2 linked regions of the Homo sapiens genome follow. The protein of the gene in region 1 purifies or fractionates together with the protein of each later gene. This does not show direct contact. Each region holds a gene or a part of one and is shown on either strand. Other genes may lie near its edges.

Region 1 (3,806 bases):
CTCCCAAAGTGCTGGGATTATGGGCGTGAGCCACCGCGCCCAGGCCACAGACACTTTCAATCCATTAAGGGCAAACGAGGCCACAGGAAAGACCGGTGAACCCAGCTCTGCCAAATGAAGGCAGTGCTGCCTGGCCCTGAGAGCTCACAGCGCCTCTGGAGGCTGAAGACATGCAGTTTAAACACTAGTGGGAGTTCTGGGAGGGACAGTGACTAAAGACAGTGTCCAAACTCCTCGCACTCGACAAAGAAGTTCCCCTAAATCCTGTGAGTTCCCAGCTGAACTGTCTGCTCTGAGCTCAGTTGCGGAGCTGTGCCACTTGCGTCTACTGTGTGGTGGGCTCAGCCTGGGGCTTTCTGTCCACGCCCCATTCAAGCCGGTTCATCCACCGCCCTCACTGTCTGCAGCTGCCGCTTAGTGGGTGCTCACAAGATCACCTGCACCAGACTGTGTGTGTGTGACCTCCCTGTCACAGATGATCCCACTAATGCTTAAAGATAAAAGCAACCTGCCCCAAGCCACCAGCCCCTGAGTGGCCAAGTCTGAATTCTTAGGTGGCCGGCACTCATCTTGCTCCCACACCCTGCTGGACGCCTGGGCGGCCACAGCTTGTTTCAGGACCAGACTCAGGCCTGGGGCTCTGCGCTCTAGGTCAGCTCTCTCCAGACACCCGATTCCACTAATCCAGCAATGGGGGGTGATGACCTAGAAACTCAAGACCTCAAAATGAAGGAGTGTCATTTCAGGCCCTCATGAGTGCTGTGGAAACTGCACCCTAACAGGGGAGGAAGCCACCCTGGGGAATAATCAGGCCTGCTCAGAAGGGGGTGTCCATGGAGGAAGCAGCTCCTGAGGATGCTAAGGGGCGGAGGCACCAGGAACTACATCTGGACTGCTCAGGCTGAGAAAACCTCACCTGCAAGCCCGTCTCTCCAGCCAGGTGGGCAGGGACGTGGCTCAGCCCCCAGGAACCTCCCAGGCCCACCCTTGACTCACCCACCACTCCTGGTCCTCCTCCCCGTCCACGATGATCACATCCCCCTCGGAGAAGGTGAGCTCATCGGGGTTGTCAGCCACACAGTTATAGAGCGCTTTCACCCGCTTAGGCTTCAACTTGGTCTGGGTCAGGAGAGGGAACAACGGTTAGTGTGGCTGCAGGCCTCAGCTCTCAGGGCAGAGAGCTCAAGCACCCTGCCTTCCCCGGTCTCAGGAGTCCCGTACCTAGGCCTGAGAAGCCTGCAGATGCCAAGGTGGGGCAGGTCAGTGCAGCTCAGGAGCCAGGGAGAGAAAAGGGAAGAGCTCCCCACCAAGCAGAGAGAAGGGGCCAAGGGCTGGGAAACGAAGCGGCCGGGGCAGGGTACTCTGAGTGGGCCCATTGTGGAGCTGCGGCAGGAGGGCCAAACCCACCAGCTGCCCAGATCCAAGCAGTCAGGTACCAAGAAGAGCCCCGCCCTGCCCCAGCCAGGGGAAGAGGGGAAGACTTGCTTCCCCTGAGCCCTTGTGAAACCACCTGCACCCCCCTGGCTAGAGCAGAGAGGCAGGAAAGGGGGCTCGTCACTTACTGCCTGCGACTTCCTAGGCATGGGTGCAGGGGGCTGCAGGACCATAGCATTGGACAGAGGACCCAGAGCTTCCGTTGCAGAGAGATCCACTGTAGGGCAAAAATGAAGCAGCTTAAGACATCCCATCAATCACAGCCATGAGATGTAAACAATGTACAAGCCACAGGGTGTGTCTGAAAGCAGGTTTCCCCAGGTGTTCCGATCTGTTGAGGGGAAAGGGAACCTTCTGACTTGGATGCAGACCTTGGAGAGCTTGTGTGGCAGCGAGTGTCCCCCAGTGAGCCTGCCATGTCAGCAGGAGGGGACAGGTGAGGGGCCCCAGGACTGAGCTGCTCAGGAGCAGGGGTCTCAGAGGCCGAGGGAGGAGGGAGGATGGCAGGAGGGAGGAGGGAGGAGGAAGGCAGGGAGGAGGGTGAGAGGAGGGGAGGGGAAGGGAGGGGTGGAGGAAGGCAGGTGGCGGGGGAGGAAGGCATGAGATGGGGGAGGGAGGGGGAGAGGAGGAGAAGGGAGCAGAGGAAGGCAGGAGTGGGGGAGGAAGGAAGGAAGGAGGGAAGGAAGGAGAGGAAGAGGGCAGGAGGGGAAGGGGGCAGGAGGGGAGGGGGCAGGAGGGGAGGGGGCAGGAGGGGAGGGGGCAGGAGGGCTGTGGAATGGCAGACAGCTGGGCCCTCCCTCAGTCCTGACCACCTGGCAGGAAACATCCCCCACATTGCCCCCATGGACCAAGCAGAAACAAACTCAGTCCCAAATTAAATAATTACCAGGTCCTCTCGGTTGGCCTTTGTTGGTCAGTGGGGTGGACTTGTCAGCCCTACAAAGACAGGGAAAAAGTAGATTTACTGCTACCGGAGGGCACCTGCCCCTTTCTCATCCCCTTTTATCAGAGAACCTTCTGAGTTCAAGCTCAGAGTGTGTGAGGTGGTTTCCTCCACTGTCACTTAGCTGTCTCTTTTTTATGGGAAAAGGAAGAATGAGAGGCCCTGAGGAAAGTGCTAAATTCAACGTTTCTGATCCTAAAACCAGGGCTTTTCCAGAGCACTCTGTCCACGTGAGCCTGCCACCGATGGCCAGGGTCTGGAGTGATGCTGGGCACTGGCCACTGGCCCCGCCCCGAGTCTGCTCAGCCCCTTCCCTGCCTTGGTCCCATCACATGAAAGGGCAGGGCTGAACCTTAACCTCAGGCCCAGATGGCTTTGCCAGGACGGGTCCGAGCACTCTGGGTCAGCGCTGTCCATGCCTCTGCCGTCCCTGCTTCTGGGAACCAATGTGGCTGACCACGGGCTCAAGCCCCATCCATGAACCTCTGGGCCAGCACACCCCAAAGCCACAAGGTAGAAACACATGAGTGAGGAAGTAGTTCTCAGGGCTGGCAGAGAGGGGTCCCTCATCTCGAACCTGCCACCTGGCAGCCCTGGATAAATGGGTTCTGGAGAGTCAGCATTTTCATCTGCAAAAGGTGTGACACAAGATCCGTCAACTCCAGAGCTAAGGACCAGTGCCAGTGGCTTCAGCTCCCCGGTGGATCTCCTGGACCTAGCATAAAGCCAGGCACAGGACGGGGGCTGGAGAAGCAGAAGAGGAAGACCAGGGAGGAAGGGAAGGGGAAGGCAAGGATGGGATTCTTTCCACTGTACGCTCCCGTCTGTCGACACTCCCTTCGCTGCTCGGAATGAACCCTGTCTGGCCTCAATGCTTGCAGTCCCAGAATGAAGGGAGAGAAAACATCACATGGGTTTTGCTCATACGCTGAAGGAACTGAAAAGGAACTTTGTTTTATTCCATAAAACAAAGACCCCTCCCATTTGACCAGTCTAGCCATTTGTTTTCCATCTGTGTCTCTGGGTGTAAATGTCTCTGCAGACATCACTACACTGACCTGGCTGACCCCCTGGCCGGCAGTCATCCCTAACTACAGAACACTCGCAGGGAAGGCCTGATCCTCTGAGACAGCAGTGAGCAGACTTTTTCTTTAAAGAGGCAGATAGTAAACTTTTTAGGCTTTGTGAATTTTTTTTTTTTTTTTTTGAGATGGAGTCTTGCACTGTCACCCGGGTTAGAGTGCAGTGGCACAATCTCGGCTCACTGCAACCTCTGCCACCCGGGTTCAAGCAATTCTCCTGCCTCAGCCTCCCGAGTAGCTGGAATTACAGGTGTGCACCACCACGCACAGCAAATTTTTTGTATTTTCAGTAGAGACGGGGTTTCACCATGTGGGCCAGGCTGGTCTCAAACTCCTGACCTCAGGTG
Region 2 (3,806 bases), on another chromosome or scaffold:
GGAGGCTGAGGCAGGCGGATTGCTTGAGCCCAGAAGTTCAAGGCTGCAGTGAGCTACAATTGCACCACTGCACTCCAGCCTGGGTGACAGAGTGAAATCCTATCTCTAAAAAATACAAACAAAAAAAGGAATGAAGAAGTGGAGGAAGCAGCCACAGGGCATAGGATGAGGACCACAGTGGGAAACAGACACACCCAGTCTCAGGTCAACACCACATGGCCCATTCTTAGAGCAGCTCAGATGTGCACGGTGCTGCCCCCCAAGGGGACAGCCCCCATCAGTAGGGAGATGGGAATAATTGCTGGGCTCCCATGGGACAAAGTGTCAGGAATGAACCCCCTAAGTAGAGTCAGTGGTGAGGGTCATTAGCTTCCTTTTGAGGATCTTCCCAAGCTTGAGATTCTGAACTGGAGTGGATGCCCTTCAGGATGAGATCGGAGGGCCTATTTGCACTGGGTTCCTGGAAGAGCCAAGTGCTGGAGGAGGGGAGGGCCCTGCCTGGCAGGAGGCTGGGAGAGAGACTCGGCCTCCCAGAGGCCTTCAAGGTACACAGAACTGGGGAGTAATGAGAAACCAGGCATGGGAGCTAGCTAGAGGGGAGGGAGAGGGACTCCCGAGTGGGAAGAGCAGATGCCTCACTACAGAGCTGAGGAGATAATACCTGGCGAACCGCAGATCCTAGCTCAGGAGGGATGTGCCACACTCAGAAGCCTCTAAGCTGAGCCTCAGGAATGATGACTAAGGCAGCCCAAAGACTCTGCAGGGCCCTTCAGTGAAAGCAAAATGCCAGGCAGGGTGTCTCTGCAACCCCAAAGGACAGAAGGAGGGAGCAACAGGATCCCTTTTACTGGAGAGGACACTGATGCCCAGAAAGGCACAGCCTTATCGAAGGCTGCACAGCTGCCAATGGCAGAATACCACAGTGGCAGAACACCCAGGTTGCTGGGTTTTTGAAGTCAATGCCAAGAGGAAGCTACTGAAGGGGGACAGAAGGGTCCTTAGCAGCTGCAATCACACCCAAGCTCATGGCCTTCCCCACGAGGCTTTCACAGACACACCCCTCAGCCATTATCCTAAATTCCCAGTCAGGAGAGAAACTAGCAGGCTTCAACCTCTTGTAAGGCCCTTGAGGTCACCTGGTGGCTGCCAAAAGTCAGGGCACCAGTCAAGGACTGATCCTGTGCCAGGCACTTCAGTACATGATCTTGATCCTCATACGACTCTTGAGGAAGATATTTACAGCTTCATTTTCACACAGGACTTGCAGAGGCCTGGGACAGCTGGCTGAGCTGCGCTGGGCTGGACTGCCTTCTGGCCGGCACAGGCTCGCAGCCCCCTTCCAGTCCCCATGGCCACGACATTACAGATGGATGCAGGTCAGGAATGGTCAGATCAGTGGGGTAAGGGAAGTCTCCCCAGGGTGTGGTGCTCTGGAAGAGGGGAATGGAGGGCAACCCTCTGTATCCTGCACCATTACCTCAAGTGTTATGCTCAGGTCTGAGCCTGTTGTCCTATTTCCCCTGATATCATGTATCAATTGGTGAAAACAAATTCTGTGTGGCTTTTTAAAGGCTACTGGAGGGCCATTGGGGAATGAGACAGAAATAAACAGCCACAGCTCCCAGCCAGCTGGGGACCTTAGCATCCCACAGGCCAACTGCTGGCCTGTATTCCCCGTGACACAAGGCCCAGCCAGTGATGTTACCGTTCTCTCCTCGAAAGCTCCTTTGGCCCGTCCAGATCCAGTTGTGTGACCTTTTTGGTTGTCTGTGCCACCCGGTTGGGGTTCTCGATGTCGATGAGCCCTTCAACGCCTTTGCGCTTTTGCTAGAACAGGGCAAGAAGCTGGTTGTTGGAGTTCAGGTCCTGTGGAGCCCCTGAGGGCCACTCCTGCCATCTCTCAACAGCCCATCTGGATGAGGACAAACTCCTGCTCCACCCCAGCCCACGTAGTGCTCAGCCCAAGTCTCACAGTGGGTATAGCTCTCTGGAGCATCTTCATCAGCCTGGGAAGAGCCCACAGAACGGCTGCTCGGGGTCGAATAACTTGCCCAAGTCAACCAGGAAGTAGGTGGTAGATGAGAGGTGCGCCCTACCCCGACTTGCAAGCACTCACACAGCACTACTCCCCTACTTCAAGCTCGGCTTCCAAAAGCAGTTTTCCATGGAATCCCATGCCTGATTCTTCTTGCAAAAAGCGCTGGGCTGGAATCCCCAGGGCAGGGTGGGCCAAGTGTGTGCTGTCATGACTAATTCCAATTCCCACCCACCTTAGCTGATGGACTGGACTTGTAACCCAAGAATAAGCTACTGGATCACACACTCTACAGGTTTGGGACGCTGGCCCAAAAACCTGGAATCTGCACCTTCCACCTCCCCTGCAGAAGTTCCAGAAGAAGGGGGTGTGTTCTCAATGCAGCAGGTTTGGTCAAAGTTTCAGGCCCTGTCAATTCCATCAATTCTCCTTAAGGGGGCAGGGAGACAGCTTCCACTCCACAGAGCTCCCTCCACACACTTCCAGTCCAGCTGCACACTTACACCTCCACTCAGATGCCTGGCACTGTAAACTTAACATGTCCAAGACAGAACTCGAGATTCATCCTTTACCCAACCGGACCCTCCCTGCAATCCTAAGCATATCCTTGATTCGTCGTTCCTTCAGCAACCCCCAAATACAGCTTAAATTTGTCCACTCTTCTCCACTGCCATTGTCACCATCCTAGGGCAAGCCACGATTTTTTTTCTTTTGAGACAGAGTTTCCCTCTTCTTGCCCAGGCTGGAGGGCAATGGCACAATCTCGGCTCACCACAACCTCGGTCTCCTGGGTTCAAGCAATTCTCCTGCCTCAGCCTGAGTATTTGGGATTACAGGCATGAACCACCACCCCCGACTAATTTTGTATTTTTAGTAGAGACAGGTTTTCTCCATGTTGGTCAGGCTGGTCTCGAAATCTCGACCTCAGGTGATCCGCCCGCCTTGGCCTCCCAAAGTGCTGGGATTACAGGTGTGAGCCACCACACCCGGCCCAGGATTTCTGATCTGAACACTGCTCTTACTCTCAACATCCTATCATTCACTCTCCATGAAGAAGCTAAAATAATCTTTTTTTTTTTTTTTTGAGACGGAGTCTCACTCTGTCGCCCAGGCTGGAGTGCAGTGGCATAGTCTTGGCTCACTGCACTCCGCCTCCCGGGTTCACGCCATTCTCCTGCCTCAGCCTCCCAAGTAGCTGGGACTACAGGCGCCTGCCACCACACCTGGCTAATTTTTGTATTTTTAGTAGAGACGGGGTTTCACTGTGTTAGCCAGGATGGTCTCGATCTCCTGACCTTGTGATCCACCCACCTTGGCTTCCCAAAGTAAAATAATCTTTTAAAAGCATATCTGGAGGCTGGGCGCAGTGGCTCACGCCTGTAATCCCAGCCCTTTGAGAGGCCAAGGCAGGCAGATCACGAGGTCAGGAGATTGAGACCATCCTGGCTGACATGGTGAAACGCTACCTCTACGGTAGTCCCAGCTATTCGGAAGGCTGAGGCAGAAGAATGGCCTGAACCCGGGAGGCGGAGCTTGCAGTGAGCCGAGATCGCACCACTGCACTCCAGCCTGGGCGACAGAGAGACTCCATCTCCCAAAAAAAAAAAAAAAAAAAAGCATATCTGGTCATGTCTCTCAATCCCTTCAAGGCCTCCCCCAGCTGCCACTACCTACCATAAAGAAACCCCATGCCAGGCATGGTGGCTCATGCTGCTGCAATCTCAACACCTCAGGAGGGTGAAGTGGGAGGATTACTTGAGCCCAGGAGTTG

Evidence for each region.
Region 2: the proteins of ASAP2 (region 1) and PDAP1 fractionate together in Homo sapiens (co-fractionation; one large-scale study listed by BioGRID). This does not show direct contact.

What each region holds. Positions count from the first base shown.
Region 1 is NC_000002.12:9,398,587-9,402,392, reverse strand, and holds part of ASAP2 (arf-GAP with SH3 domain, ANK repeat and PH domain-containing protein 2), read right to left. Parts: intron 2,371-3,806; coding exon 2,321-2,370; intron 1,652-2,320; coding exon 1,563-1,651; intron 1,120-1,562; coding exon 997-1,119; intron 1-996. UniProt on the Homo sapiens protein: Activates the small GTPases ARF1, ARF5 and ARF6. Regulates the formation of post-Golgi vesicles and modulates constitutive secretion. Modulates phagocytosis mediated by Fc gamma receptor and ARF6. Modulates PXN recruitment to focal contacts and cell migration.
Region 2 is NC_000007.14:99,398,598-99,402,403, forward strand, and holds part of PDAP1 (28 kDa heat- and acid-stable phosphoprotein), read right to left. Parts: intron 1,828-3,806; coding exon 1,706-1,827; intron 1-1,705. UniProt on the Homo sapiens protein: Enhances PDGFA-stimulated cell growth in fibroblasts, but inhibits the mitogenic effect of PDGFB.